Linked DNA regions of Homo sapiens: all the other regions are reported to be linked to region 1. The links are microRNA targets in miRTarBase. Many come from high-throughput screens and were not tested one by one. Region 1 holds a microRNA gene; each other region holds the end of a gene's coding sequence.
Evidence for each region. The annotated mature microRNA hsa-miR-6124 reads GGGAAAAGGAAGGGGGAGGA and lies in region 1 at 1,364-1,383, opposite strand. An mRNA with a match to its seed (bases 2 to 7 or 8) in the 3' UTR can be bound and repressed. Matches are read on the target gene's strand: a 7mer-m8 pairs with bases 2 to 8, a 7mer-A1 pairs with bases 2 to 7 and ends in A, and an 8mer does both.

Region 1 (3,074 bases):
CTATGCCTCCTGGGTTCAAGTGATTCTCCTGCCTCAGCCTCCTGAGTAGCTGGGACTACAGGCACTTGCCACCACACCTGGCTAATTTTTTTTGTATTTTTTAGTAGAGATGGGGTTTCACCATGTTGGCCAGGCTGATCTCGAACTCCTGACCTCAAGTGATCCACCTGCCTTGGCTTCCCAAAGTGCTGGGATTACAGGCGTGAGCCGCGACGCCCAGCCAAGGACACCTGTTGATTATCTGTCTCACACTCCCACATCCTTGGGGATTTGCTCCTCCCTCACATCAATCATGTGATGCTTGAAAGGGCTGCCAATCACAGTAGCCAGTTCCTCTGGCTTTGGCCATAATAAATCCAGAAGTGGGCCAATTAGAATCCTTCTCTGAGGTTTTTTTCAATATTGACCTGGAAGAGACAGATTCCAGCCTTTTGGAATGGAGCTATAAAGATGTGAATGAGAGGCTTCGAACATGGAGAAAAATGTGTTTGCAGGAGGGAAGCATGGAGCCAATAGAGAGCAAAGCATCAAAGCACCCAAGTTAAGGTCAGGACTTAAAGTGTCTGGACCTTCCTGTTAATATGAGTCAATGATTTTCCTGTTCTTTGTGGTTATTTTGAGCTGGGTTTCTGAAAAGCACAGCTCAAGTAGCCTAACACAGTCACAGTTCATACTTACAATGCATTCTCAAATGTATCTTCCAGTCCTCAGCATTCAGGCGGTTTTTACGAGATGGGTTATCTCACATGTGAAATGTCTTTGTTCTTCCTCACAAGACAGGCATAAAAATTCCTGGGCAAGAGGCACCTTACCCAGCATCCCTAACAAAAGGAGCTTTCTTTCCCTTTGCATCACAGAAGCCAGTGGTGACCTGCCAACCACAAGATGTGATGACTGTTCTATTTCAAGCTACCAAAGCTTGTAAAATAGAGGCTGGCCACACCAGCTAGGCAACTGGCTAGTATGTTTTGGAAGAAGGGTCTCTTCTTGGTGGTCAGCCCTCCGTTCCATCCCTCTGCTGGCTGACTCCCTGTGACAATCTGTCTTCAGATCACCAAGAGGGTCCCTCAGCAGCCACAACATGTTGGGTGTATGGGGCAATAGCATTCCCTAATAAAAACCAGAGCTCTGAAAACCCTCTGTGAGAGAACACAGTGCAACTGGGCCACCTGACTTTTATGGGACCTTTAAAAAAAAGAAGCCACCATATACAATTACTAAGAGGGATGACACTTTGGAAGCTAAAAGCTTCCCCTCCTTTAACTCTGAAGAGCCACCCCGTGAACTCTGAACCATGAAGTCACAACAACGAGGAAGGGAGGCACTGGGCAGGAGTGGCACCCAGGACATTGGTCTCACCTTCTCCTCCCCCTTCCTTTTCCCTACCTCCCCCATCTCCTCTGCCTAGCTGGAGCATGGTAGGTTATAAACAGGCACTGCCTGGATAGCTAGTCTGCTCTGGGCTGAGGCGACTGGTCTGTTTCAACCTGATGGAATGCTTTTCCTACGTCCCGCAGTGTCAGTGTGCCCCAGGCTCACAGGAGCTTGGCAGCTGTCTCCCCAGGGGCAGTGGAAAGCAGCATATCCCATGGTGGACTCGACAGCTTCTCACCACCAAAACAAAAACACAACAGTCCCGACTGCCATGGAGAGTTCAATCCTCTTGTCCCGGGATTGGCACCGGCTGGAATTCCTAGGGTTCTAGCTGAGCTACCTCCTGTGAGGTCTAAATACAGCACATTCGATTTTAACCTAAACACACAGCCTGCACCAGTGCTCAGGGCTGGTAGTCCCCAACGGCCACCAGGGAAGTCAGCTGAGACGCCTGGACTCCCACCTGCCCATCTGGTGCTGGGCATTTCAGAAATGTCAGAGAAAGGTTGCGATAGTGAGCCTATGTTCGCCGATGCTGTCTATGGCCAAATGATGGGGGATGCAACCAGTTCGTGTAGGCTTAACTATGAGTGTGGTCCTAGGTAGAGAAATGCATCCTGAGGAAGGGAGTGGGCAGGTGGAGAATGCAGGGGTATCAGGAGGAAGAGAAAGAGACAGGGAGGAAGAGGCAGTAAGGACCTAGACCTATTTCTTAGCCAATTAATCCAAAACCAGGGGATCTTTCTAAAATGTCCACACCCAGGCGAACACAACTCTGTAACTATGCCTCTCCCTGAGATTTAGGTCTTAGGCCCTAGAATCAGATGGACTAAGGTTGCCCTCTAGTTGTGTGACCTTGGGCACAACTGACTTCTCAATTTCCCCATCTCTAAAATGGCCTGAAGGACTGCTGTAGCTGTTCATTGAAATCATGGACATAAAGTACCTTGTACCTAGAAGCTGCTCAACAAATAGCAGCTACTAGAAGTAGTAGTAGTGGCAGCAGGGATAATAGAAGTGGGGGTAATATCAAGCATGGGCTTCTCTCCCTCAACTTTGCCTCTGGCTTCCCTCCCTTGGAGAGGGCACGAGTGGAGGGAACCTCCCAGCCAGGAAAAGCTGATGCTTAGAGACAAAGGAAACCTTTACCGGAGGAAAACAATGCAACATTCACACCCACACCTAAGAACCGTAGAGTGCCAAAATGGCAACAGCTTCCTAACCTCCCAAATGTCAACCCACACGCCCTGCAAAGGTAAGACTAGGAGGGTTTCCCCTTACCTTGGTGTTCGTGCACGACTTCCCTCGCTTATACTCTTTGTGGGAACCACGCTTATCCAATTTGTACCACAGGGCTTTGGCTTTCCAGGTGGTCACCTTGGACTTGAGCTTGGAATAAAAGTTTCTGTGGTCCAGAGGGTCTAGGTCCAGGTGTCGTGTGAGAATGTTGAAGGCCTGGAGGGTACCTTTGCACGTGGATGCCTGGACAAAGTTCTCAAAAACCTGCCCCGCCTGGGCCTGCTTCTCATCCTCGTTTTCCCCCATGGTTCAGGAGTCGTGTGCGGCAGTGGTGCGGCGAGGACACAGGTGAACAGCATGAAGTATCTGGAGAAACGTCACACCTGTGAAAGTAGGGGGAGGCAGAGGTCAGCTTTGGACGATGAGGTTAGGGTGGGGGATGGGTGCTGAGAAGTAAAAAT
Region 2 (4,533 bases), not on the chromosome of region 1:
CACTGCTAAAGAACTTACTCATGTAACCAAATACCACCTGTACCCCAGTAACTTATGGAAAAAAATGAATGACAGCAGAGTCCTCATCAGAACCAATATTCCTCCTGAACATAGATAGAACTAAACAAGATTTTGACAAATCAACTCTAACAACAAATTACATAGATAATATGTTATGACTAAATGGGTTTATCCCAGGTGTGGAGGGTTGATTTAATGTTTGAAAATCAATGAACTAAAATAGACCACCTCAGTAGACAGAAAAATTATTTGGCAAAATCCAACACCCATTTCTGATAAAAACTCTCAGCAAACTGGGAATAGAAGGAAACTTCTTACCCTGATAAGGGCATATATGAAAAACCTACAGCTAACATCATATTGAAAAACTGAATGTGTTGCTCTTAAGATTAGGAACAAGACAAAGGTGTCTGCTCTCTTCACCACACCTGGCCGGATTTTTTTTTAAACTGTTTTATTTCAGTAGGTCTAGTTGTTCATCTTACTGGATTTCTTATACACTATTCTGAAACCTCTTGTCTTTGTGTTTAGATCATTTGGGTGTCTGAGGTTTATTTCTTTGATGTTTTTCATCAAAGCTGCTCAAAATACGTTATTGGTTTTCTGTGCCATTAAAAGTGAGCTCACTTCATGTTCTTGTTGAATTCTAACTGAAGCTCATTTCTCCCCTTTTTATTTTCAGATATTTGTATCTGCTGTTCTCCGGTGATGACCTTTTACCTTTAGACCACTGGGTGTTTAATACAGAGGCTCACCCTCTGCCTGTGTTACATTTAGCCAACACCACACTTTCAGGTAATCCTGCTGTTCGATGAAAGCAGTTCCAGAAGGACCATTCTCACCTGTGTTTTGTTTACATGGACCACTACAGAAATTAGTTTGAAGGGGCGGCTTTTGAAAACCTGGACCTCTATGTCAACATGACAGGGTGAAACTATTCCCCCTAAGACTGTTCAACTTGTAGATACATCAACTTTGAAATTATTCCATTTTATACCTGACCAAAACATGTTCTGATATGTGTAGGACAGAGACCTGGATGTGCTTTGATCGTTAATGAGGTGGTCACATGAGAAATGATACCTGTTACTACTGTATTGTTTTTAGAGTCCTGAAGTCTGGAGGCTAGACTTCCTGAAAGCAAGTCAAGAATATAGAGCACCTTGCAGGAGTTCAAGATGGCCTTTGGAACCAATTATGTATTTGTTTCCTCCTACAGTGGAGCAGCATTCAAATCAAATATTTACATATTGCTTATCACTTTTTCTCCATTTTAATAATGGAATGAACTAAAATAAACAAGAACAAAAGAATAGTATAATTATATCAGTAACAAGAAGACTCAAAAAAGAAACAGGAGTACCTATCCCTATCTGAATTTTCAAGTTCCCCATTGGATGACCAGACTGGCAACCATTTCAAATCCCAGTCTATTTCATTGAAATTTCTTGGTTAAGTTTAATTTTCTCTGGGGGCATGATCTCACAAAGAATACTCAAGTCTTTTTCTTCTTATGGAATCATCGAAACTGCTATTTATCATAATCACCACTTATGAGCCTGGGTTTGGGATTTTGTGCATGTAGTTCAGTCTAGTGTTGGTAGCATGACAGAAAGTGGGGAAAATGCCGCAGTTTGTTGCCTTGAAACCTAAGAGCAATCCTTGGTTTTGTTGCTACATTATTTTTCCAGACCAACACATCTACCAAGTAAATTTTATTCACTTTAATTTCATAATAAAGTTAGTAGAGTCACTCAACTTACAACTTTATTTATGTGGCTTGGCAAAAATCACTATAAGGCAGCTCTAAATTTGCCTTGATAAGCTAAATAAATTACTTTTATAACTTACTAAAGCAGAACAAACAGTGAAACTTTCTAAAATATTCTATCTGGAATAGGGACAGGGGATCTTTTATTTATAATCTCATCAGATGAGTGAGTTGTTCACAGATATTTTATGTTTTTTTAATTTTCTCCAAGAATATTTATAGAATTCCAAAGAATCAGAATAGTTTCAAAATAATTTTCAGTGATAAAAGAGTGTTGTAATTAATCATATTACACTAAAATTGGGATACATCTAAGGAACTTTATCTTACTATCAGTAGGTTTTGCATTGATATTTCTTTTTAAATAAACTACTAGTTCTTTATATTTTGACAAAAAGAACTTAAATTTTATCAGGAACTGTAAGATAAATATCTAGTGCTTATAAATTTTCTGTCCTTAAATTTATGTGACAGTGCAAGATACTTTTGCTCTTTTCATTTAATATAGGCATCTTCCATTGACATTAATAAAACTTAGAAACAGTATAATTAGTATAACATTTACTCTGAATTTGAAGATTTCCTGAAACAAAGTTTGTACAAGAAGCCCACCTTGGAATTCTGAAGGCTTATTTTCTTGTTTGATAAGCTTTTCTTTTAAACTTAGGTTTTAAGTTGGGGAAAGACTTAATTAACTAATATAGTATTTTCTAAGGTTGATCATCTTATACCACGAATCGTTAATTTTGACAGTTCTACTGATCCGTAAATGATAACCACTGCAAATTTTTTCAGTATAAAATTTTTCACTGCAAAAAAATTTCAGTAGAAAATAAGGATGCAGGGCCAGTTACAATAGTCCTTAAGAGAGTTAAATTATAGCACATGTTTTGACATTGTAATATCTTTTACTACTTGAACATTTAAATTTCTAAATGAGAAAGGTATATATATTACTGTAACTGTAGAAGGGAAAAGGGAAAGTATTTGGTTCTAAAAAATGTTAGCCTTCCTCGTAAAAGTAGCACAAGCCCACTTATGAATCACTGAGAAAAAGTGAAAAACTTGAGTTGGCAAAGATGCAGAGCAGCAGTGCAGATGGCAATGAACTCTCTGAATTCTCTTTTACCTTATTTAGAAGAATGCAGAGTAAAGGGACCTTCTTGGTTCTGCAGGAACTTCTCAAGGGATGAGGAGACAGAACCCCTACTTCCAAGTGCTCTATTTGTATTACCCAGATGACTGAAGCTTAAGAGAAGGCAGGGAAGTATACAAGCAGAGCCAGTTCTGGTACAAACAAAGAATTTGACAGGGACAATGGAAGGGTCTTCTTCACCACTCCTTACCTTCTATGTGATGGAAAGACTAGAGCTTATAAAAGTACTTCCATTTTTTTATTCTCCTGAATACCAAAGGCAATTAAAGTCAGCTACAAATGACTTGCCAGTGTCATGTTTTATTTTTGTTATAGATTTTTAAATTATTTCCTTCAAGATCAATTCTTATCCCATATAATGCTTAGCTTCCAAGAATATTCTTTACTTTCTTCTGTCTTTTACAGCTCTTTGCATTTTGTAGACCTTAATACTCAGGTTAAATATTCATTGCATTTATAAGATCTTCTGCAAAAAGCCCAGAAATGGTCCTTTTCAGGTGCCTCTTCAAAGAGCTGACACCTTACCTTGTGCCTTTGGCACAAATGTGCAGAATAGATACATCAGTTGGTGCATAATCGAAAAAAATAGGAATTTTGAACACTGTTCTTCCTTCTACATTTATTTCTCTTCATTTTAGAATCACACTTTTTATGTTAAACCAGATTATTATTATTATTATTATTCAACCAGTATTAAGTTGTTAAAACCAAGGGAATGGGGCCCTAACCAAAAAGAAGTCTCAACTCAGAAAAATAAGTCCCCAGTCAGGTGGTTCTTACTTTCTTGTGGGTTGCACATTTTGTATCTCTCTAACATCAGCGTATTCCTGACTTTAAGCAGGTGTTTATATGTAAAATAAAACCTGGGTATCGAAGGGAAATGCATTCTTTTTATGGAGTATTGACCCTGATCCTCTATGATGTCATATAGAGCAACTCAGGGCTATACTTGCTAGATTTTAACCAAGCAGTTTGAAATATTAATCATCATCCTCTCATCTTCTCCACTCTCCATTGCCAAAGTCTTTGTCAAAACTCCAAATTTGTTGATAAAAGATTGTGTTTGCCATTCTCATTTATAATGCAGTTTCTCCTTAAGCCTGGAGTTTTTTGAATGAGTGCATGAGTAAATGAGAGAATGTGTGAACGAACATTTATGAAGTATCTAACATGTGCCAAGCATTGTGCCTGGCACTTTCAATCATTAGAATGTTTTATGTGATTCCACAGCATTTTCTGTATGAGAGTAGCTCACAACATTTTAAATGTTTCCAATATGAATCGTGTTACAAAATTCTTAATTTTATATTTCATATAAATTAAAGAGGAAAAAGAAAAGGTTTATAATATATTTTAAAACAATGTGTTACTGTATAATACAACTATAATTGTAGTTAATAACTAAAACCTCTTGAAAATGTCAAAGAAATACTTGATTTCTGATGCAACTTTGACTAAAATATTTACTTTAGAAATAAAAACGTTCTTATTTTGCTATATCACTTTAATTGCATAATTAAAAAGCAGTGTTTTATAGAAATGCTGGTTATTTTATATTCAAAAAGATTTTGTCACATAATTCATG
Region 3 (4,533 bases), not on the chromosome of region 1:
ACGGTCTAGCCTTAAGAACATTTTAAATTTTGCACATGAAAATGTATTCTCTATTTTAAAAAAACCATAATTAGGTTTTGAAAAGAATCCTTGCTTTTGCAGGGATTGTGAAATGGAAGTTGAAGGTTTTTGTCCTCTATGAAGCAGTAGCTCTTTACAATGGAGGCATTTGTTAATTGAGTCTGATATAAAGTGTGATGTAGAGAAATAAAGCATGATGCATCACGCAGCTCGCAGGTCATTTCTCCCAGCGTGGGGGAAGCTGTAGGAGCTATAAAACAAACAACATGTTTACAGGGAGAAATTTCTAGTGATCCTCAGCATCACTGAATTTCATACCCGATTAGAATTAAAGAGAGTGTCTAATTTTTACCTCTGCTCCTAGAATAACACATTTCACAGAGCCTTCAAAGAGCCTTATGCCTGCAGTCTTTTCTGTCAAATATGCCTTTGTTTCATGAGCCTTAAAGTGCTATACAGGCAGCCATACAAGTTCACACACTTCTCCCTCACGCACCATTTGGCCCTCTGGACAGCCCGGTCAGATGGTCATTGTTGTCACTAGGACCAGCTTGTGGATAAGAAACCTCATCTCCAGGTGGTAACAGCAAAGCCGGCCTCCCTCAGGCCTGCAAAGGACCAACTCCTTCTGCAGCAGTGACTGTCTGTGACTTCTGCTTCCCTTCCTCCCTAGAAATGTGTCCAGTCCTTTTACAGTGTCACCCAGAACTTTGTCCATCTGCTAGGGGGCTGGAAAGGGAAGTTTCTGCCTCACACAGATGTTGGCTTCTCCTCTCGGAGGCGTCTTTTGTTCATGGTGCTGAAGGGTTTAAGGGGCAGAAGTGAAGGCATGTTTCCAAATCGGATGGTCTCTGGAGTGTGCTCCCTGAAGGACGGGGGTGGGGGTGGGAGAGAAGCTGAAATCTGTTTCAGAACCAATCCTGGGCTTGGGAAGCTTTTAGGAGGATTTGCTGCCCTAAATTAACTGTCCACCCTTCTTTCCCTCAGGTCATCTGTGACAAAATATTTCGCCATTGGTTTTCCGCGCCTCTCAAGAGCTCTGCGGTCTCTTTCCAGCTTCAGCTGCAGTTACAGGAGGCGGTGCAGGAATGTGCAGACCCTGGGGTCCCCAGTGGGAACACCCGGAGAGCAGCCTCCAGCGTGTTCTGGAAGCTTCGCCAACTCCTCCAAGCCACACTGAGGGAGCTGCAGGAGGCAGAGAAGTAGCCACTCTCTGGCCTTAAACATGCTCACACAGGAAAAGTGACCTTGGCTGGATTTCTTCTGCCATTGTTTTAAAGATGAGCCATTTCCCCTGTGCTCTCTGGGGTGCCGTTCTGGTCTCCACATTGTGGAGTGGCAAGTGCTGCTGCCAGAGACAGTGCTCCCTCGCTCTCGTCCCACCCTGGCCTCTGACCTGTCGCCTTGTGTAAAATGAGATGAGGGAGGAGGTACAGACCTCCCTTCAGGAGGGCTCTCGGTCAGAAGACACCAACCTGTGTGCACTTATTCTCTGCAGAGAGCACTTGTACCTGGTTATCCCAGCACGAGTTCCAGCTGTTCTTTCCTGTAAATCGTTACCACGTTAAAAAGTGTGCGTGTGTGCATACAAATGATGTGTATGCCTGTGTCTGGGTGCAAATGAGCATGTGAGCATGTGTGAGTGTGCCCATGAGTGTCTGCATGTGTGTGAGTGTGCACAGGTGAGTGTGCACAGGTGAGTGTGGTGTGCTCATGAGGAGTATGAGTATGCCTGAGTGTGAATATGTATGAGTGTGAATGAGTGTGTGCACATGAGTGCACGGGTGTCAGCATGTGTATATAAGTGTGGGCATGTGTATGTGATTGTGTGAGTGTGGGCAGGTGAGTGTGTTGGGGATGTGGGTTAGGGTGGGGAGTGGTGCTTTCTCTAGTGTGTCCTCCGGAACATCTTGCCTACCTAGCAAAGAAGTGTGACCATTCTTTCGGAATTAAATACAATAAAAAGAAAATAAGCTGCATCTTTAGGGAAGGGAATTTGCATTGGAGAGCGTGTGTAACGGCAGCTTATAGTATTTTTCATTTTGTGGAATCCACCAAGGTTATGGATGGGTTTTAGGGCGCCTCGTATTGCAATACACCTTCCCCTGGGCAGGGACTTGTAGGTTGGCTTGATGCAGCATTGTCTTCACCTTCAGAGAAAATTTAAAGTAGAGCAAATGCTGAGGTCTGCATTGACTCCAGGCAGGACCAGAGACCAGCACCTTTCTTTTGATGGATTGAAGACCAAGTGATAGGCATCAAATCCTATGGTGGCATGATACGCTCATCAGTGGTGATCCCAAGGAGGCTTTTCCAGCAAAATACAGGCAGGGGGACAGGCCAGGTGAAGCCAGTGAGCTTTCACTTAAAGGGACCTGGTTTCTACCCATAACTGTGACCCACGAGTGCTCAACAAACCAACGGGTCACCCCTTTTCAGAAATCCCATGAAAAGGGAAATCGAGAAAGATGAGAGAATCAGGAAGTCATGTTGGCAGTTTACACATTAAAGAAGACAAATTAATCGGACGTTGTGAAAGTCACAAACTGACACATTCCAAATGGTCTCTTATCTTGGCCTGCAGCCCCTTTCTAAACCAGAGAAACGGGAATGCCTTCTTCCAGACTTTGGGGTCACATTTACTGACTCTGCCCTTCAGGGCACGCTGAGAAATGGTGTGTGAGGGACTAGCATGATCAGAGGCCCCCAGCTCTAAATTCTGCCTTCCCCAAAGACCTGTTGGAAGGCCCACTGCCAGCTGTTATTCTTACCCATCACCACTGGGGATCTTCCAAATGACACAGAGTTCCATAGAGGGCCTCCTCATCATGGACATGAAGACTCGCTTTGCAATTGTATTCTAGCAAGAAGGAAAAAACCCATGTCAGTCACCCTGTGGCACGAGCAAATTAAAACCAAAGTTCAACGGCCAGGCCTAGGACTAGTGGATTCCAAAGGAAAGGGCGGGCTTCGGGCTATTGGGTGGAGGCTCCGATTTTCCCCAGAGCTGCGCTGGGTGCAATGCCTTTCTGTGGTGGTCGGGGCATACTTTGGGCCATGCTCACCTTCTAGGCAGGTTCTCTACAAGCAAAAAGGTTTACAGGAAGACGGGTGTGAGATGGAGGGGGGGAAGGAGGGAAGCCACCAGGGCTTTGCCCTCTGTGCCCTTTAAACAGTGGGGTTTCGCTCTGGGAGGTCAGAGTGGGTCTTTTGTGGGTAGACGCTGGGATGCCAGCCATTCATTAGTGGCCTGAGCTCACTGACCAGGCAGCAAAGCCAGCCTGGAAAAGAGAAATAGTTAGTTTTCATTTCAACCAAAATGGAAACAAATTGTTTTTGTTTACGATGGAGACTGTGCAATATATAATTATCCAACACAATTGTGGTTTTATTGCTGAAAGGGAGCTGTTTTATCTCTTCCCTTTATGTTTGGCTACACAGTTACACACACACACACACACACACACACCCTTTTCCATCCCTGCCTGGGAATTCCCATTAGAGCAGTGGCTCTCAAATTGTGGTGAAGCTCAGTTTTGTTTTTAATTTTGAAACCTTGCAAATCAATGCTTTTATATAACATAATAAATTAACACTGTGTATATCAATATTTAGTATTTTGAATATGACAAATCGGTTTTTTTCTGGCTGATCTAATTGAGCAACAACCGCACTCGTAGAGGAAAATGTCTCCCTAAATGATTTCTATGTTTTGTTGTAATAACACATAGTAGACAGAACACTCTCAGAGACATGTTGATGGGATCTGAAAAAGATTATAAAGTAAACTCATCAAGCTCAGGCTATTCCTCTTTAAGTTGTATCCAAATTAAAGCAAATGGTGCTTTATTCATGTCCAGTCCTTCATCAGGATTCCATTGCCACAGTTTACCTTGACAAATTGTAGTTAAAACTTCATTTGATGAAAAGAAAGAATTCCATAATTGTATACTCCATTGGCTTACAGCTGACAAACCTTAATACACGTGGGTTGTATAGAAATCGTAGGTGGCTCAGGAGACAAGTTCGTGGATACCTAGACTGGTCAATGAGTCAGTTGGCCAATGTCAACTGGCAATGTCACATAACATCACAAACGTTTACAAACACTGCCAATATTGCTAAACCCTCCTCTCAATTCTCATCTCACATGAGACAAATTAAAGCTAACAGTTCAGAGACATGCTGCCTCCTAGAAGTCCACCAGGCTTAGCCTCCCATGCATCCTGCCCCATACTAAGGCCCAGCCTGCTCAGCCCTTCCAGAGTACCTATGATGAACATCCAGGACATTACCTTAAATTACTGGAAGAATAACTCTTTTAAATCTTGATTTGGAAGCTATTCTTTGAACAGCAGTAAGTGGAGGAGTTGGGTTGGAGATTTCTAAAACCAATGACCGCATAAAGATACTCTCGCATTCACCACGCTAGCCCCTGTGGTTGGCAAACAAATGCCACTCTGGCTCTAACATCTATTGGTTCAGTCAGAAAAAAGAAATGCGCCCACCCGG
Region 4 (4,533 bases), not on the chromosome of region 1:
AGAACTCTACACATAGTTGAGGCTCGATAAAGAGCAACTACACCTTATCACCCATTAAAGAGAGAAGCAAAATCTAAACTTGATAATATTTTTCTTAGTTTTTTTTTTTTTTTGGCTTGTTTATTGGTCTTTTGTATTCCCTTTCTACCTAGCCTATTCTATCCAAAAACAAAATATGAGCTTGACTTCCTCTAACTTGAATTAAACTAATCTGTCACCCCACTGCACCTGTCTGTTGAGGCCATTTCTATGGCTCTATGCATCTAACCTATCAGGGTTTATGTTCCATTGTTTGGGAACATTTGCTTTATGGTGTTTCTAGAGTAATCATACGGGAAGCCCAAAGATTCTTCCAAGAATTTGTTTTCAATTTTTAATTTTTTTATTTAGAAATAATAAAATAAGACATAATATATAAAAATATGTACAATCCATGGTTTGTGCAGTACAATAGGAAGACTTTAGATACAAAAAGACAGCAAATGGGAAAATAATAACTATCACGATTGTCAATGGCTAGGATTGTTCAACTTGCCAGAGCCCAGAGCGGAAACCCAAAATTACCAGAAAAGAGATTCTACTTTGCTGAGGGTTGGGGATGGGCAGGTAGCTATGCCACACTTTTTTTTTTCCCACCTTAACATTATTAGACACAGAGTGAAAAAGAACTCACTCTACTTCTCAGGACAAGCTTTTGCTTTTACTGAGTGGTTTATTATAAAATATGAAGTGACATTTATTAATTGTAAGGGAAATATGATTTACGGGACAGAACTCATCAAATAAACAGAGTTGAGATAGGAGTGTACTGGTAAGAAAGGAAGTAAAGAGAAGAAAGAATGCATTAACAGAATAAAAACAAAGTAAAACAAACTTTTCTAGGAATTTGGAAATGACAACAGTGCCATAGTGACATCCTTAAAATGTCTGATTCAAGTATACTCTTAGAGGGATAGAAAACTACTCCTTTCTCAATAATCAAAATAGAGTTCACTTTGTCTACATTTTGTTTAAAAATAGGATAACCAGGAATCTATGGCTCCTCCCAAAAATATAGTGCCCTTCCAGATATGGGCAAAAATTCTTTAAAAGGGAATAAATCCGAAGTAAATCCAACAGGGAATCTGCTTGCAATAGAGAAGCAACACACATCTGGGAATCAACCCCAGATATTCATGGTGAGTCCCCTCCGTCTGCATTCTAATGACATGTGTACATTAATTAAGGAGACCCAGTCAATAAGGACAAATATTTTGAAGGTAAAATGCAGCAATCAATGTCGTGCATTACCTGTGTCTTGGCTCTTGACAAAAAAAAAAAAAAAAAAAAAAAAAAAAAAAAAATTGCCATTTAAAGCTTGTAACTGTTAAAACGCTAATAACTAGAAAAAGGTTTCAAATGAACAGTCCATGCTGAAATAAATAACAGAAGAACATAGCAATACGAACCTTATAAGGCTGGTATATATTTGCTAAAACCATGCTAACCGGTAGCATATAGGTACTAGCTCTCAGAAATTACTGCACTGAAATTATACTTTCTATGGCAATTATTTTTCTTTACAGACCTCTATTTACATTTGGCTTTAAATATGAAAATATCTGATAAACTTTATAAAATGTACACTTTAAAAACATAGCTTCTGCAAAATTTTCTTGAAAAAACAAACCTGTGCACCAGAAATTTTATATTTTTTTCTCTTTTTCAGAAATAAGTTGAAAGATTTCCCTCCCTCTTTCTTGCCCCCCCCATACCCACCCCCTTTCAAATTTCTCAAGTCTTTTTAAGTGGCAGCACTGTGTGTTTAGGGGGAGCCTCTTTTGTGGTCACCCCCATTCTCCACTGTATCTTCATTTAATTTACATATCACTGAATACTCTTTGGTTTGATTATTTTCCTTTGCAAAACATCATAATAGCAGCAGCTGAAGCCCTCAATATCCTCTCACTGTCAAGAACCAAATTGTTGCCTCTTCTGTAAGTTTTCTTTACAACTCAATCCCCAATTCCTCCAACTCTTTAAACACCTTCCCAAACCTGCCTTTACATTTGGATCTAAAACAACCACTTGCTTAACATCTCTTTCTTTGTTTCATTGAAAATAACACCTCAGTTTCCCAAGCCATCAAATCTGAAGGCTGAAAACAGCAAAAATTGTCATAGTTTTGCAGGCACGGCATTCAGATATGGCTGTTCAAGAACCAGAGACCATCACAAACATCAGTTTACAAAATACATGATTCTAGAACAAGCTGTTTTTTAATGGCATACAGAGATATAATACCATAAGAGAGTTGATTTTGAGACTCCAATTAAAAAGAAAAGTCAGTAATCCCAGAATTCACAAATAGGGAACTTTAAATTAAAAAAAAAAAAAAAAAGAGTTCCATTATTGAGCTTCAGTGAGAAAAAAAAAATTATGTTTCTAGCAAGGCAGTCAGCCAGGCAGGGGAGGCTTCTGGAAAACAATGTGTCCTTCCTTAGTAACCTGCTCTAGGGCTCCACAGGAGAAAATGCTTAGCTCACATTCAGTCATAAGTATGCACACAGAAAAGGGAAATAGCTGTTTTAGACCATTATCTCCTTTACTTGTGATTATGTTATATTTTTATGGCTCTCATTGACCCTAAAATACTGAGACATTTTCATTACTATCCTCTGCCATAAAAAAGGCAAGTTTCCTCTCCTTCCTAAGCACTTGATCTGAAGTGCTGCATCAAACTGGCTTGTCCACACCTCCCTGTTTCCCTGCTTTGGCATTTGCCGCCCTATCTGACACTGTAGGACTCAATCCAGACAGACTGATCAGAAGAGCAAGTGTGGAGGCCAGGTGTGGCATCTTCCCTAAGGTGAAGGTGGGCTGGTGATGTCCTGACAGTCCAGGCAATAAATTCAGCAGCAAGGGTTTAAACCCATTTATCTTTCATGCTGGATGGCTCAGTTTTGAGAATGCCAGGATGCCAAGGAGGTCCTATGAAGATCTTGTCTTATGAAATGAATTTTGGAATGTGCAAAAGGAAAAGCCCAGAAAAATATAAGAGTACATCACCATCTCGCACACTACACATGAGCCTGGCCAGCACTGCCTAGCAGGAAAGGATAGACGTCGGTATTGTGTGTGTGTGCCCCTTTCTTCTTCTTCCTCTTAAAATAAAAAAGTTACATGAAAGGACAAAATTTTTAAAAGCACTACACTGACTAGACTCGGTGAGTATGATGCTCTATTTTCTGAATAAGGTGCAAAATGAACCGGCGGTTCAAGGTCTTGCTGAGGTTCAAAGTTATTGTCTCTTGATTTCAAGGCAGCCCATGGGGCTTTGTTTTCTTTTAAGTGTAAGCTCCACTGTGCAAAAATATGCATTATCTTTGGTATTTATTTTAGGTAGTTTAACTTAAAATTTGAGATAACCCATTAACATCATGGAGGAAAAGAAAAAAACAACAACCCAGAGGCTACCATTCGGCTAGTGTTACATAATGCCCTTATGTAACAAAGAGAGAGAGAAAAAAAATCAATTCTAGCAAACGAATTACTGGCCTCAAAAAATCAGGCTCTTGTTTTGGCAGTTAATAGCCAAATACTTGCCACTTTGAAGCGCATCATGAGCTTTCAATAAAATTCAACACTGACTTTAAAATTACACAAAAGGAAAACTACACTGCAACAAAAATACACATTTGTGTTCATGTAGTTAGCAGCTTTTCAAAAATTAAGGCAGAGTCTTGCCTTTGTTATGCCATTAAAAACATCCTTGTTCCCTAAAGAGAAGCATTCTGGATAAATCAAATACCCAACCAAGGCTTGCCTGCAAGTTCAAGTTTTGGAAAAACACAAAACAAAACATAAAAACCCATAACTTATTCTACAACATCTATGTGCCATCGGGTCACATGGAGACATGGTTAGTGCTTTATGCTAATCATGGAGCTTACAGTCTTTCTTTGAAACCATTGTGCTTGCCTCAGTCCCTTGTGGCCGCTTGCTTGACCCATCTTGACCAGTACCGTCATCTGTATAACTGTTTTGGGCCTCTGACCAACAGACCGTGTTGTAAAGTAACTATTCCAGAGAAGGAATCAGTCAGTCATATCTCCGACTCTCGCCGTAAGGGCCTGGGCTCTAGAGGTACACTTGCCTGGTTGTGAAGGTCTATGTCAGGGGGCGTGTCCGTACTAGTGCTTTCTGGAACTCCATTTTCACTGTCGTCTTCCTCTTTGCTTGTGAGGGCAACTTCATTTTCATAGCAAAATGAATTTGCATTTGAGAGGATATATTTCTTTTCTGCTAAGTCTCTGGCACTACAAAGGGGAGTGTTGGGGACTTCGTAAGTTTTGTGGAACCTGGAATAGTCCACTTTGTAGTAGTGCTTCTCTTCAAAGAGCACAGGCTCATAGCGGTGGCCCCACAGGATTTCATTTGCTAGATAAGAGCTACGGCACTGTGTCGTCATGGCAGTGGCTTCCACCATGCCTTCCAGTATGACCACGATTTCAAAGTCTGCGTTGTCAATGTCCTGTTTACTCAAATCATATA
Region 5 (4,533 bases), not on the chromosome of region 1:
TGCCACCATCCCCAGCTAATTTTTTGTATTTTTAGTAGAGACGGGGTTTCACTGTGTTAGCCAGGATGGTCTTGATCTGACCTTGTGATCCACCTGTCTCGGACTTCCAAAGTGCTGAGATTACAGGTGTGAGTCATCGTGCCTGGCCTCTCTGAGCTTTTTATCCTGTTTTTTTTTTGAGACAGAGTCTTGCTCTGTTGCCCAGGCTGGAGCGCAGCGGTGTGATTTCGGCTCGCTGCAGCCTCCACTTCCTAGGCTCAAGTGTCCTCCCAACTCAGCCCCCAGAGGGCCTGAGGTACACACCACCTGATTTTTTAAATTCCTAGTAGAGATAAGGTCTCACTGTGTTGTCCATCCTGGTCTCAACCTCCTGAGTTCAAATGATCCTCCTGCCTCAGCCTCTCAAAGTTTTTTGTTTTTGTGATGGGGTCACACTATATTGTCCAGGCTGTATTTGAACTTCTGGACTCAAGTGATCCTCTCACCTCAGCCTCCCAAGTAGCTGGGATTTCATTTTTATAATGGGAATAAATACTGCTGTATTTCAAGGTTGCTGGGAAGATAAAATAAAAAAATGTACATAAACCTCTGCAACCTCTGTCTCCCGGGTTCAAGTAATTCTCCTGCCTCAGCTTTCCAAGTAGCTGGGATTACAGGCATCCACCACCATGCCCAGCTAACTTTTTGTATTTTTAGTAGAGATGGGGTTTCACTATGTTGGCCAGGCTGGTCTCGAACTCCTGACCTCCTGATCCACTCGCCTTGGCCTCCCAAAGTGTTGGGATTACAGGCGTGAGCCACCGCACCTGGCCATTTTACCTTTAGGGAATACAGAGCTTAGTCATGATAGGAATGAATGTGCTTGTCCTTGTACTAAACTGCTCAGAGCCTTAGCAGATGCTGGGGCAGCTCTGTAGGAAAGGAAATGGTGAGGTAAGTGGGTCAGGGATCAAGGCAGTCTGGGAGGGGTGTGGGGGTGAGGAGTGACATCAGTTGCCAACATGCCTTCCTCTGTGCCCCAGGTCCACGTGAACTTGCTGCTCCTGGAGGCGCGCATGCAAGCCGCTCTGCTGTACGCCCTCCGTGCCATCACCCGCTACATGACCTGACTCCTGAGCAGGACCTGGGCCCGGTTCAGCTCCCCACAAGGACTTCTCTGTCTGGAGACAGCCCCAGACCCTTTTGTGTCCCATGCCCACCCTCCCCACGCTGCAGTGGGCTTGTGTGTGATGTGCAGTCCCGAAGCCACACCCTCCCTTTTCCTCACTGGAATGGACAGTTCATTGCACTGACTCTGGGATCTCAGCCCTGCTCCTGGGAGCTGGAAGAGCACTTGGAGATCCTAAGGGACCACACCCTTCCTCCTTCCCCTGCCCACAGAGGCAGAGGGCACAGGAAAGAAGCCGGGCCAAGCTCGGAATTAATGTGCCACAAGTGTTGTGGCCTTCCTGAACTGGGAAGTCCCTGGCTGGCCCCCGGGGGAGAGGGGCAAATGCCTCCGGGACTGACACTCCAGGCAGCTTTGCCTTCTCTCCCCTGTCATTTCCAGATTTCATTACCTCCTACTTGCCATTCACCCATCAATGTGAAAGTCAGGGTCACAGCTGGTCTGTGTGTCCAGTTCCCTAAAAGCCTGTTCTGTTGGGCAGCCTGAGGCTGTTGCCCGAATCCTAGTTCAGTTTTTTGACTTCCTTTGCCCTTTTTCCCTTTTCTCCATGCTTAATGGTGTGAGGCGTCAGGAGAGAGGCCAAGTACATAAAAAAAAAAAAAGCAGATTATCTCTAGAGAGTTTGAGCCTTTGCTGGTCACATTGCCTTCTGAAGAGGAGGGAGTATTAGATTATAAATCCTCTTTATTTTGGTCCTTTATGCTTGAGGTTCCAACCTGGAGCCACAGTGTGTGAGAGGAGGAGGAGAGGGAGAATTCTGTTCTCCCAGAGCTGCACCTGCCTCGCAGAGGCCAGCACCCCACTCTCCTGCCTCCAGTGGCCCTGCCGCAGATGTCTCCCAAAAAGTTGAGCCTTTCTAGATGGCTTAGGTGGCACCATGGCTCAGCAGGAGGGGCGGGAGGCACCAGGGTTCTTGTTTGGACCCTGCCCCTGGGCCATGGCCAGGTGACCATGGCTACATTGCCAAACCTCTGACTGCCACAGCTGCAGACTGAGAGGGTGGGTCTGAGTCCCCACAATGTCTGAAGCTGCCCCTGGGATTCTCAGGCCAACCTGCCAACAGCAAGCGGATTTTCTTGCAAGATCAGGGACCCCATTTCTGCAGCCAGTGTCTCCTGGGTGCCTTCTGAGGACTCCCACCCCCATCCCAGTATCTCATCTGTCCCCTCTCCTGGGGCTTAAGTGGGTTGCTTCCAGGCAGAAGCAGCCAAGGACCGATTCCAGGCACTTTCTGTAGCAAATGACTGTGAATTACGACTTCTCTTGCCCTTCTTCTAGCAGTCTGTGCCTCCTCTCTGACCAGTTTGGAGGGCACTGAAGAAAGGCAAGGGCCGTGCTGCTGCTGGGCGGGGCAGGAGAGGAGCCTGGCCAGTGTGCCACATTAAATACCCGTGCAGGCGCGGAGAAGCAACCGGCACCCCCTTCCGGCCTGAAAGCCCTCCCTGCAAGAAGGTGTGCAGGAGAGAAGAGGCCCCGGCATGGGGATCTGGGTTCTAGAGGGCATGTGATGACTGTAAATGTTCACTGGGTGGGTAGGGAGTGGTATCCAGTGTTCAAGTGCAGAAATCTTTGGCTTTGCTACCAGTTCCATATGATGAGAAATAAACGTTCGCTGAGGTTTTGTTTCATACTCCCTTTTTATGGGCTGTTCTTTCAATTTCCTGAAGGTCATGGTTCACCTTGTAGCATAGGCAGAGAGCTGTGATTGCATCATGGGCCTGACCTGATAGCCCCTGCCCTGCCGAGAACTTGTGCCCAGTGATTGTAGGTTGGGACTGTTGGCACTGAAAGTCTACTTGTCCCTTGGACATCCAGTCCTGTCACCCTTCTGCGGCTGCCCTGGCACTGTGGAGTAATAATGACCATGGTGTTTTTCTAAGCCTGGCCATGGGCTGGGTACTTGGAGACCATTCCTCTGAATTTGCAGCAATCCTGTAGGAGAATTGAGACGGGTGAACTGACGTTGTTGAGGCCACATGGCTAATCGGTGGGGGAGCCAGGATTCCCCCCTGCTCTGCTTGACCCTGAGGCCTTGACATTTTACCTTGCTGTTTTGCCCACTACTGGACTTCCCCTGTGACAAAGAGGCTGTTTGAATCTGGAAGGACCCCCTTGTGTCCCCAACCCCACCACATTATGATTACCTGCTTCTCATCCTACCGCCTCCAGCACCAAGGAGACAACGCCAGGAACAAAGAGGTGCAACCCCCAAGCTGTGCCAGTGCCGTTTATGGCTGTGTGACCTTGGTCAAGCTTCTTAACTTCTCTGGGTACCAGGAACTAGTTAGCTTACCAGGAAAACCACATCATGTAAGAGCTAAGACCACTCCCGCGGGCTTCCTACTTCCTATAAATACCGCTGTCAGAACACTAGGTCTCTTCCAGGCAGCCTCCCCTAGTGGACTTTGTGTTCCCCTTCCCCTTGAGGTATCTGTTCATTTTCGCAGGATTCCTATACACTTCCCCTTCCTCTAGAGTCATTTGAGAGGGTGTGGGAGAAAGTGAATCACACTTGGAGTACAAAACCTGGATTCTGGTTCTGATTGAGCCACTCACTATATCGCTGGGGAGATTGATTAATTTCCCTGTGCCTCAAGTTTCCTCAGCCATAGAAATGGGGATAAAAGTTTTCCATTTCTTTTCCAGTTGGCATGCATTGGGTGTTTGTTTGAGATGGAGTCTCGCTCTGTCACCCAGGCTGGAGTGCAGTGTCACAATCTCGGCTCAACTGCAACCTCCATCTCCCAGGTTCTAGCAATTCTCCCACCTCAGCCTTCCTAGTAGCTGGGATTACAGGCACATACCATCACGCCCGGCCAATTTCGGTATTTTTAGTAGAGACAGGATTTCACCATGTTGGCCAAGCTGGTCTGGAACTCCTGAGCTCAAGTGATCCACGTGCCTCAGCCTCCCAAAGTGCTGGGATTACAGGCATGAGCCACTGCGCCCAGCCTATGTGGCATGCATTGAGTGTGACTGTTGCCAAATGTTTTCAAATTTAATCTCCCAATCTTCACAACAACCCTGTGAGGAAAGGGTCTGTTCCCATCCTATAGATGTGGAAATGGAACCTCAAATGAGAATCTGGGGAACACCAATTTAACAGACAGACCCAAATTCAAATTCCAGCTTTGACATTTAATGTCTGTCCGATCATGAGCAAGTTGCTTCAATACTCCCTCCTCAATTTCCTTATCTATGGGATGGAATTAATACCTAAGGTTACAAGAGGGTTGTGAGGATTAAATAATGCATAAAAACCACCTAGCACAGTTCAGGTACCTGGCATCTAGCATTCGCAAGCTGTTCAGGATTCAGAAATTTGCCCAAGCTCATGCGACTGAGGTAGAATTTGAATCCTTCTC
Region 6 (4,533 bases), not on the chromosome of region 1:
ATGTTCATTATGTACAATTGAAAATGCTTTAGACTTATTCATTAGCAAGCTGTGAAAGCGGTATGACCGTTCCATTTTACAGATACAGAAATGGAAACTTAGAGAAGGTGGGTGACTTGGCCAAGTCCCCACTGCTAATAAGTGACGGAATTGCTGACTATATTTCAAAGGAAAGATACTTTACTACTGTAAACTGGATGGGCAGGCAGCGTGAGTTGCCAGTGGCTTTATTTGCAAAGCTTCTAGAATGAACACTGCTCAGCTGCCGCAAATTCCACAAGTAAAGCACAGTAACCTTTGCAACATGCAAGCTTATGGCTCAGGGAGCAGAGATAAGCAAAATCCACAGATACGTGCCAAATCACCCTTTGCAAACTAATAGTTTCTCTTTTATCGCAACTGAAATTCTTCCTCTATTTACTGGCTTTTGGTTTTCTTCCTCTTGGGTGGATGCGGTAGGAAGTTGTGCTGTGTTCACTAAGAAGCAGAAGAGAGACGTGATTCGAGTGAGTTTTAGGCTTACTCCTCAGATACTTGGGAACCCATTTGACCTTCTGAAAAACAAGCTTTTCTTTAGTTATAAACATCCATCTCAGTAAGGTAGGCTAACCCCTTTCAGTCAATTCCTTTGGCTTCTAGAAAATGTTTGGTGTTGTTTTGTTGTTTACCATTTCTTACTATTTAGTGCTTGTCAGACATTACTTACTTGAGGCAGAACATTTGTTTGCTTCACAAGGAAAGGTCACTTATTAAATAAAATGGCATGATTTCTGGAATACACTAATGCTCCTTATCTTAATTGACTTTGGGAATGAGCCTTTACATGAGTTTTTTACCTCCCTGGATCATTTTGAAAAGGTGTAAAATGCTTCCAGAAACGATTTTGTAGAACTAAACAGATTTCATATGTTGGAGAAAAGCCTGACAAGAGGAGGATTGGGTTTTACCAGATTTTTCTATTATAAGAAACTTGCATGATTTAAATATTTTCAGTATGTCCTTTGAGGAAAAAAGCAAACACAGTGCTACCCAAATCATTACTAAATGTCTCTCATTTGGTTTCTCATGTTTCTCTCTCTTTTTCTTTTCTTTGCAGTATTGACTTGAAGCTGAAAGAAAAGCCTTAGTTGGCCATGCTGGAAGAAGAGGATGCTTTTCTGGTTCATGGTTCTGTTGAAACATATCTACCTGAAAGAGACAGGGCTGATGTTACCTTTTTCCACTTTGCACTACCTGGTGCCATTCTAAATTTCTAAGGGGAAAAATAGAAAGTTTGTTTACTCTTAAGATATTTTATGAAATTGTGTGTACTTTCCTATTTTGCCAATTATGTGCCTCAAAGATTTTAGTTGAGCCTTAGCAAGAAAGTAGGACCTTCCATTTCAATACTTCATTAACACGGTGTAGTGATACTTTGTCCCTTAGACTGGTGTTTACCAGTAAGATACCTTTAATCCACTGTTAAGTATGAGTGGATTTGTTTCCATAGATTAGCTGGATTTCCTTTTGGTGATTGCATTAGGTTTAAAGTACACAGGTCTCAACTCTCCCCAGGAAAGTTTCCCCTGTTTGACTCCACCTTTAAAATCCTAAGCCTGACTAGGACAGCCACAAACCACACAAGGTGTAAAACCATCATCAGCTAAGTGCCCGTTTTGTTCTTGTTTACCAGAATCTCCTTTAACTTCTCAAAGGGAAGCCGGGCTTTCTAATCCACGTCAACTTTATTTTAGTTGTCAAATTGGGCATTATATTTTATGTAAATTGGTCTTTTAACATCATTTTCCTGATGAATGTTGGTGACCACCACATTGTGAAATTTAAGAATCCGTGTTGCATGTTTGGTAGCTCTCTGAGTTTCAGGCCATAAACTCAGCTCCAGAGGTTACCTTTTAAGTGCCAAGAACTCAAGTGCAAGGTGGCCTACTCAAAAATCATTTGGTAGCATTCAGTTATTCATGAATTCCTCTCTCGCATGCATTATAAAAAGTGATCTGCTTTAAAACACCGTAATCTGATCATAGGCTTAAAATTAAATATGAGTATTACTTTCATGTACAAAATATTTCCTTTATAGTCTTCATATGCCCTTTAAAATGCCAACAAGATTTCAAGTCTGTAGGCCTCTAGTGAGGTGGGGTGGCAAACCACAGCTAAGTCTCGCTCACCACTGCAAGCTAAGAATGGTTTTTACATTTTGGGTTGGAAAAATTTTTTTTGAATATTTCATGACACATGAAAATTATTCAAATGTTAGTGCCGATAAATAAAGTGGTACTGAAACACAGCCACACAAACTTGTTTTTGTACTGTCTACAGCTACTTTCACACTACAGCCGCAGAGCTGAGCAGTTCAGCAGACCGTATGTCCCACAATGCCTAAAACATTGACTATGTTTACAGAAAAAGTTTGCTGACCCCTGCTCTAGCAAACGCATCCTTTCCTACTCCACCCCAATTTGTATTTAGATAGTTTCTCTAACAGAACGGACAAATGAGGCTGCAAACTAATTTATTTTTGTCAAAAATCAATGTTTTGACATCCACAGACAGTGAAATAAAAGAAATGGCTTGCTGAAAAACATGAGGAGTCCTAGCCACAAAATCACTGCTTAGGTTGCAATTGCCAAAATGAAGCCTTCTTAGAAGCACTTCTTTAGTATATACAGGTGTTGGCTGAAGTCCGTGCCTCACTCTGGGAACCATTCTTAGTCTCCAGTGTCTCCTATTACAAAGAAGCTGGCAGAAATAAAAATGAAGGGGTGAGAGCGGTTCCACCCTAGTCTCATGGTGGAAAATTCATTGGGGAGAGCTGTCCAGGATATTTGGAGTCCTGGGTAGAAGGAGCTTGTAACTACTTTAAAGTCGACATCTTTGCACAGGTGATTGAGTTTCTCTGACCTCATTGCTTCACCTCTGTCTCCTCCCGTCCTTCCGCACGTGCCCACACACACGCAGTTCAGCCCTCTTTCCTCCATAAGCCTCCATCGTTTTCTCTTTTCTCCTCTTGATCCTTTCAAGCGAGTATCTTGTTGAATTGTATGTTCTGTTGGATCTCCTCCTTCATAACATCTGGCTTGTTGGACAGAAAAACCCTACAGCCCACCCCCTCCCACAGCCCACCTCCACTTTTGAAAGCCCAAATTACACCTCTCCCAGAACACAGTGTTGACGTAAATACAGTTACCCAATATTCCTGTTTGTTCACCTATTTGCTACTTTCACTCAGTAGCATCCCATTTTGTAAAATGAATTCCATGGTCACCCTGTCACAGGAAGTAATGAAAAATCCAGTGTTCAGTGTAGTGGTGCAAACCTGAGGGCATAGAGCTGTTCATAGAGGGCTCTTGTTATAGCCAAACAGACACAGCAACAATCTCACCATTTATATATATATTTTTAACTTGTCCAGCTCATCTATGGAAAACTACTCAGGTGGTATGCTGTTTGAAGCCTCATCTTCCTACATGAAAATTATGGGCATTTGTCCCAATGATTTTGTTTCAGCTGTTCTGTAGGCTGCATAACCACTCTGATATTTAGGTATCTGCTATTTTATTATCTTAAAAGACAAATTAATTTAATTGCATGTGCTAGGGAAAAGCTACCATGTACATTCACCCCAAGTAAATAGAATCCTAGATGAATCCTAGAAAAATAATCCCTAAGCAGATAGGTAGACAGAGGTAAACATTCACATGATTTAGCTCTCTAGCTCTTGCACTCTGAACATTCTTGCTTTGGTTCTGACTTCTGGGAACTGCTTTGCATTTCTCCTATAGATCTGTAGTTAAGGGAACCAAGGGGTCATTGGGGCAAAAGCATTGTTTCTCAAAGCTCCTTGATTAAGAGAAAGAACAGAAATTTGCACAGAAGATAGTGTCAAGGAGTGAGAAAGTTTGTTTGAGGGCAGTAGCTCAGTGTGGAAGAAAATCCTGAAGTTTCTGTTGAAGCCATACAATGTTCTATGGGGTTACTCTCTAAGACATTCTCTGAGGTGTGTGAGGAAGTCACTACTCCTAGCCTTTGTTAAGATGTAATTTTAAATATTCAGTTATGGTACTATGTTTGCAACTCTCGTCTTATCACAATGCCTCAGTAGTTTGTTCCCTTAGAAACATTTAGATGTGCACAAATTAATCTTTTATATATCTAAAGGTTTTTCTATCATGCATTGGATTGCTCAGAATAAAGTGTCTGTTAGACTTCGTTTTGGTAAATAAATTCTCCATAATGTAGATTAATAATATAAAAGTCTTTAATGACACAATATATCTATATAGCCTCACTGTATAATTCAGAAATAAAAATTGATTCTGCATGTGATGGTTTTCTTTCTTTGAGTCAGCAAGAATTTTTCTCTGGCTTCACTTTGCAGCAGTTTTATCTCAACATCAATCTAGCTTGGCACTTGGTACTGGAGGACTGTATACATTTTGGTTTTTCTGTACACCCAAACTTTATTCTCTCTTCATTTTTGCCTTTCCTATCTCAGAGTTCAATACACCGAGCTTTCAAACTGTTGTTTACTCT
Region 7 (3,000 bases), not on the chromosome of region 1:
GCATACAAAATATGTTCTTTACATCAAAGCACATGTTAACAAAAACAAGTTCTAGAAAGCATATACCCTCTAAGACTAATGAAAACGTCTTTAGCAGGGAATTAAAAAAAAATTAACATTCATTTGATAAATATTTTGTAGAACTTGAAATGAGGATTTTATCTCTGAGTATTTTTTGTAGTATTCCCCTTGTCCAGTTTTTGCAGAAGAATGGCAAACACTTATTTCTAAAATGAAATAGCCCTGGAAACACCCAGTGGAATTTTTTCAAAGTAAATGTCTAGCCTTAACTTGAAGTTCAAGAAGTTGTAGCTACATACTACATTAGTAAAATCTGAAATAAAATTATTCCCAGTTAATCTCTTCACAGTTTCTTAAAAAAATATTAGTGGAGATAAATTATCTACCAACTTTAAAAATCTAAACTTATGTTCACTGAACAAAAATAAATTTAGTTTCAGAACATTGCCTGTTAACGGCAAAGTACTATAAATAGTGCATGTTAAACTCTTCCCAACAACTCATTTCTATAAAATATTTGATTAAAAATAAAATGAGTGAAACATTCAATACAGAGGGGAAGACACGAACATCTTTTCAAATACAGAATAACTCACAGGAAATTTAAATAAAATCTAAATATTTTAAAAAATACCATACCAAAAAAGCCTCTAAGGTAGATTTGCCTCAAACATTTTAGTGCATTTAGAATAACTGTAGCTTCTTAGCATCAAAACCTTTGGGATATCAACTGTGCTCTTTAAGTCATGGCAAAATTATAATTTTACATTCTAGTATGTAATTATGAAAAAAATCTTTTCCATGTTTAAATTAAAATGCACCTTCACAACATCCATGGTCAGTTGTTAGAAAAAAATGCATTTGACAGAATACAGAGTTAATAAGCTGGTTTTAACAAGGGAGTTCTCTTTGTTTCATGAAAATTTTCATTTTCTATTTTGGGGTACTGCTTTTATCTGAAGAATAAAAATGGGAAAAAATAACCACAAAAACTTCCAAATGACAACCTGTTTCTTTCTGGCAACTGATAAATACTAAAGCCAAGTTACACACTTGGAAACTACTGCAGTAAAATGGATCTGAGCAGTCTGTGATTTAAACAACAATGTAACAGAATTGTAGAATTTTAAAGTACAAGATTTGACAAAGAAGAGAGTTCCAGTTTGGAGAAAGTGTCCTTGATGCTGCTCTTTAAACAATGCAGTAGCTTAGACTGGATGCTAAACTGCAAGAACTCATTACAGTGGCTTTCTAGCATCTGAAAGGGAAAGCAGAGATTCCATTAACTTGGCACTTGGGGGTTTTGTGGGTACATACCACCAATATTTCCCTTTCCTTTACTATTAGAGTTCTTTTTTGGTTAATAGATGCTTACTATTCTCTTTAAGATGCCAATTAGGGGCACATTCAACATATGAACAAAATTAAAAATAGAATTTTTGCAAAGTACACAGAAAAGAAACCAAGTTAGTAACAATGTATTTTATTGTTTGACCAAGCTCTCTTCAGAGTACGTGAGTTATTACACAATATAAAAACAATAGCCTCCTATTCAAAATGAATTACTCTATATTTAGTAAGTCTTATTTTTATAAACAAATTAAATGTCATGTTTAGATGCATTTTATATTCACTTCCACACCTTTTTATCCTTTCTTACTAAAGCGATGATTTAGTTTCTACACAGTTTCGTCACTGTACATGAAGACTGGTAAAACTGCAAATAAGAATTACAATTTGAAGTCACAGAAAATATTTTAAATGGCTAATTCTGAAGAGGAGACAAGAATCCATTTTGGACATGTTCTCAGTTTTGTAAATATGACTTCACTATCACATTCTCTCATGTGTTTCCATACCCACCTTTTCTTGGAAATTATGGGCAGAAAATGGATAGAAGGAAGGAAAAGGAATCTTGAGAAATTTGTTTGGAGGCTGCATTTTAATAATAAGGATGACTTCACTTTATCTCTTTGGTCATCAAAGGAATAGGAAGAATAAGAGATTCTCATTATAGTTATCCACCTCACCTAACAGTAATGATATCAGAATGAAGGATTTAAATGAAAGTCAAACTGACAGGGGAAAAAGGCATCTAGCACTCTAGTGTATTTACCTGTGAAAATAAAAATCCAGTGGAAAACTGACATGTGTTTAGACATTGAATAAACAAGTTATTTTAAATATTAAAAGAATTTTCAATTTCAAGTCTTAACTGTTTTACATTTCCTCTTGTGGAAAAAAGAAAATTTTTACTAAACTGAAATAGCTTTACTATTATCAGTTGAAATGAAACTACCGATTCAACTTAAGGAATGTGAACTAAATGATATTTCAATTAATAGCAATTTTTAAGGCAATTTCTGTACTAAACACTGAAATGAGTAGTAATAAATTCTGTAATTTATTCTACCATTTTGAAATATGGCAGAAATAACATCCAGTTCAATGCATATTGAAACATCAAAAGTATGGATAAGCCTTGAAGTTTTTATGGACCATAAATGTGAGAAATTCAAATGAACATCTTGTAAGATTATGACTGCACTCCAATTCTCCAATGTCGAAAGGAAAGGAAAAAAGAGACACCAATGTGTCTAACTGTTCTAATATATAAATGACCCTGACCAGATTTTTATGAAAAAAAGGGGAAATTTTATTCCACTGACAAATTTATATTCTATAAATATAATGTATAAGCCTTGAATTAGCAGACACTTTATTAGGGATGACCAAAACAAAAAACAAAAAAAACCAAACCACAAAAACAGCAAAACTAAGTAAAATATGACTATTTTCAATCAATGTTGGTTATGTTGCCCTCTTGCAAAATGACAGGCAAAATCATACTTGTTTTTACATTTGCATCCACATATATTACACTGAAAAGGATTTTCATACCCATGACATCCCATATGAATAGTGTAAAGGATGTTGTCTGCAAAGTACATATCACAGTGCTGGCAGTGGTGCAGAAGC

Region 2: the mRNA of MAN1A2 is a reported target of hsa-miR-6124. Seed matches in the 3' UTR shown: 7mer-A1 at 1,705-1,711.
Region 3: miRTarBase lists DIPK1C as a target of hsa-miR-6124. Seed matches in the 3' UTR shown: 8mer at 2,330-2,337.
Region 4: miRTarBase lists KCNJ2 as a target of hsa-miR-6124. Seed matches in the 3' UTR shown: 7mer-A1 at 3,822-3,828, 7mer-m8 at 3,425-3,431, 7mer-m8 at 3,016-3,022 and 7mer-A1 at 2,459-2,465.
Region 5: the mRNA of SESN2 is a reported target of hsa-miR-6124. Seed matches in the 3' UTR shown: 7mer-m8 at 1,257-1,263.
Region 6: the mRNA of PRUNE2 is a reported target of hsa-miR-6124. Seed matches in the 3' UTR shown: 7mer-A1 at 1,216-1,222.
Region 7: the mRNA of IKZF5 is a reported target of hsa-miR-6124. Seed matches in the 3' UTR shown: 7mer-A1 at 2,257-2,263, 7mer-A1 at 2,158-2,164 and 7mer-m8 at 1,925-1,931.

The regions. Positions count from the first base shown.
Region 1 is chr11:12,162,001-12,165,074 of GRCh38, reverse strand. MIR6124 (microRNA 6124) reads right to left here and starts at 1,392; the gene lies at 1,308-1,392. MICAL2 (microtubule associated monooxygenase, calponin and LIM domain containing 2) reads right to left here. Exons shown (of 28, transcript NM_001282663.2): 3 at 2,656-2,996. The coding sequence starts at 2,919. RefSeq lists an enhancer at 1,152-1,651.
Region 2 is chr1:117,522,122-117,526,654 of GRCh38, forward strand. It overlaps MAN1A2 (mannosidase alpha class 1A member 2), which reads left to right. Exons shown (of 13, transcript NM_006699.5): 13 at 704-4,533. The coding sequence ends at 836. Among named protein-coding and RNA genes, the nearest start is that of TENT5C-DT, 81 kb to the right of the region's middle.
Region 3 is chr18:74,433,195-74,437,727 of GRCh38, reverse strand. DIPK1C (divergent protein kinase domain 1C) reads left to right here. Exons shown (of 4, transcript NM_001044369.3): 4 at 1,009-2,953. The coding sequence ends at 1,227. Among named protein-coding and RNA genes, the nearest start is that of DIPK1C, 22 kb to the left of the region's middle.
Region 4 is chr17:70,175,875-70,180,407 of GRCh38, reverse strand. KCNJ2 (potassium inwardly rectifying channel subfamily J member 2) reads right to left here. Exons shown (of 2, transcript NM_000891.3): 2 at 364-4,533. The coding sequence ends at 4,085. Among named protein-coding and RNA genes, the nearest start is that of KCNJ2, 8.6 kb to the right of the region's middle.
Region 5 is chr1:28,279,694-28,284,226 of GRCh38, forward strand. SESN2 (sestrin 2) reads left to right here. Exons shown (of 10, transcript NM_031459.5): 10 at 1,023-2,798. The coding sequence ends at 1,109. Among named protein-coding and RNA genes, the nearest start is that of SESN2, 22 kb to the left of the region's middle.
Region 6 is chr9:76,611,164-76,615,696 of GRCh38, reverse strand. It overlaps PRUNE2 (prune homolog 2 with BCH domain), which reads left to right. Exons shown (of 19, transcript NM_015225.3): 19 at 1,097-4,321. The coding sequence ends at 1,127. The region is part of intron 5 of LOC105376095 (a long non-coding RNA gene); the gene reads right to left. Among named protein-coding and RNA genes, the nearest start is that of PCA3, 150 kb to the left of the region's middle.
Region 7 is chr10:122,990,958-122,993,957 of GRCh38, forward strand. IKZF5 (IKAROS family zinc finger 5) reads right to left here. Exons shown (of 5, transcript NM_001372123.1): 5 at 1-3,000. The coding sequence ends at 2,823. Among named protein-coding and RNA genes, the nearest start is that of PSTK, 12 kb to the left of the region's middle.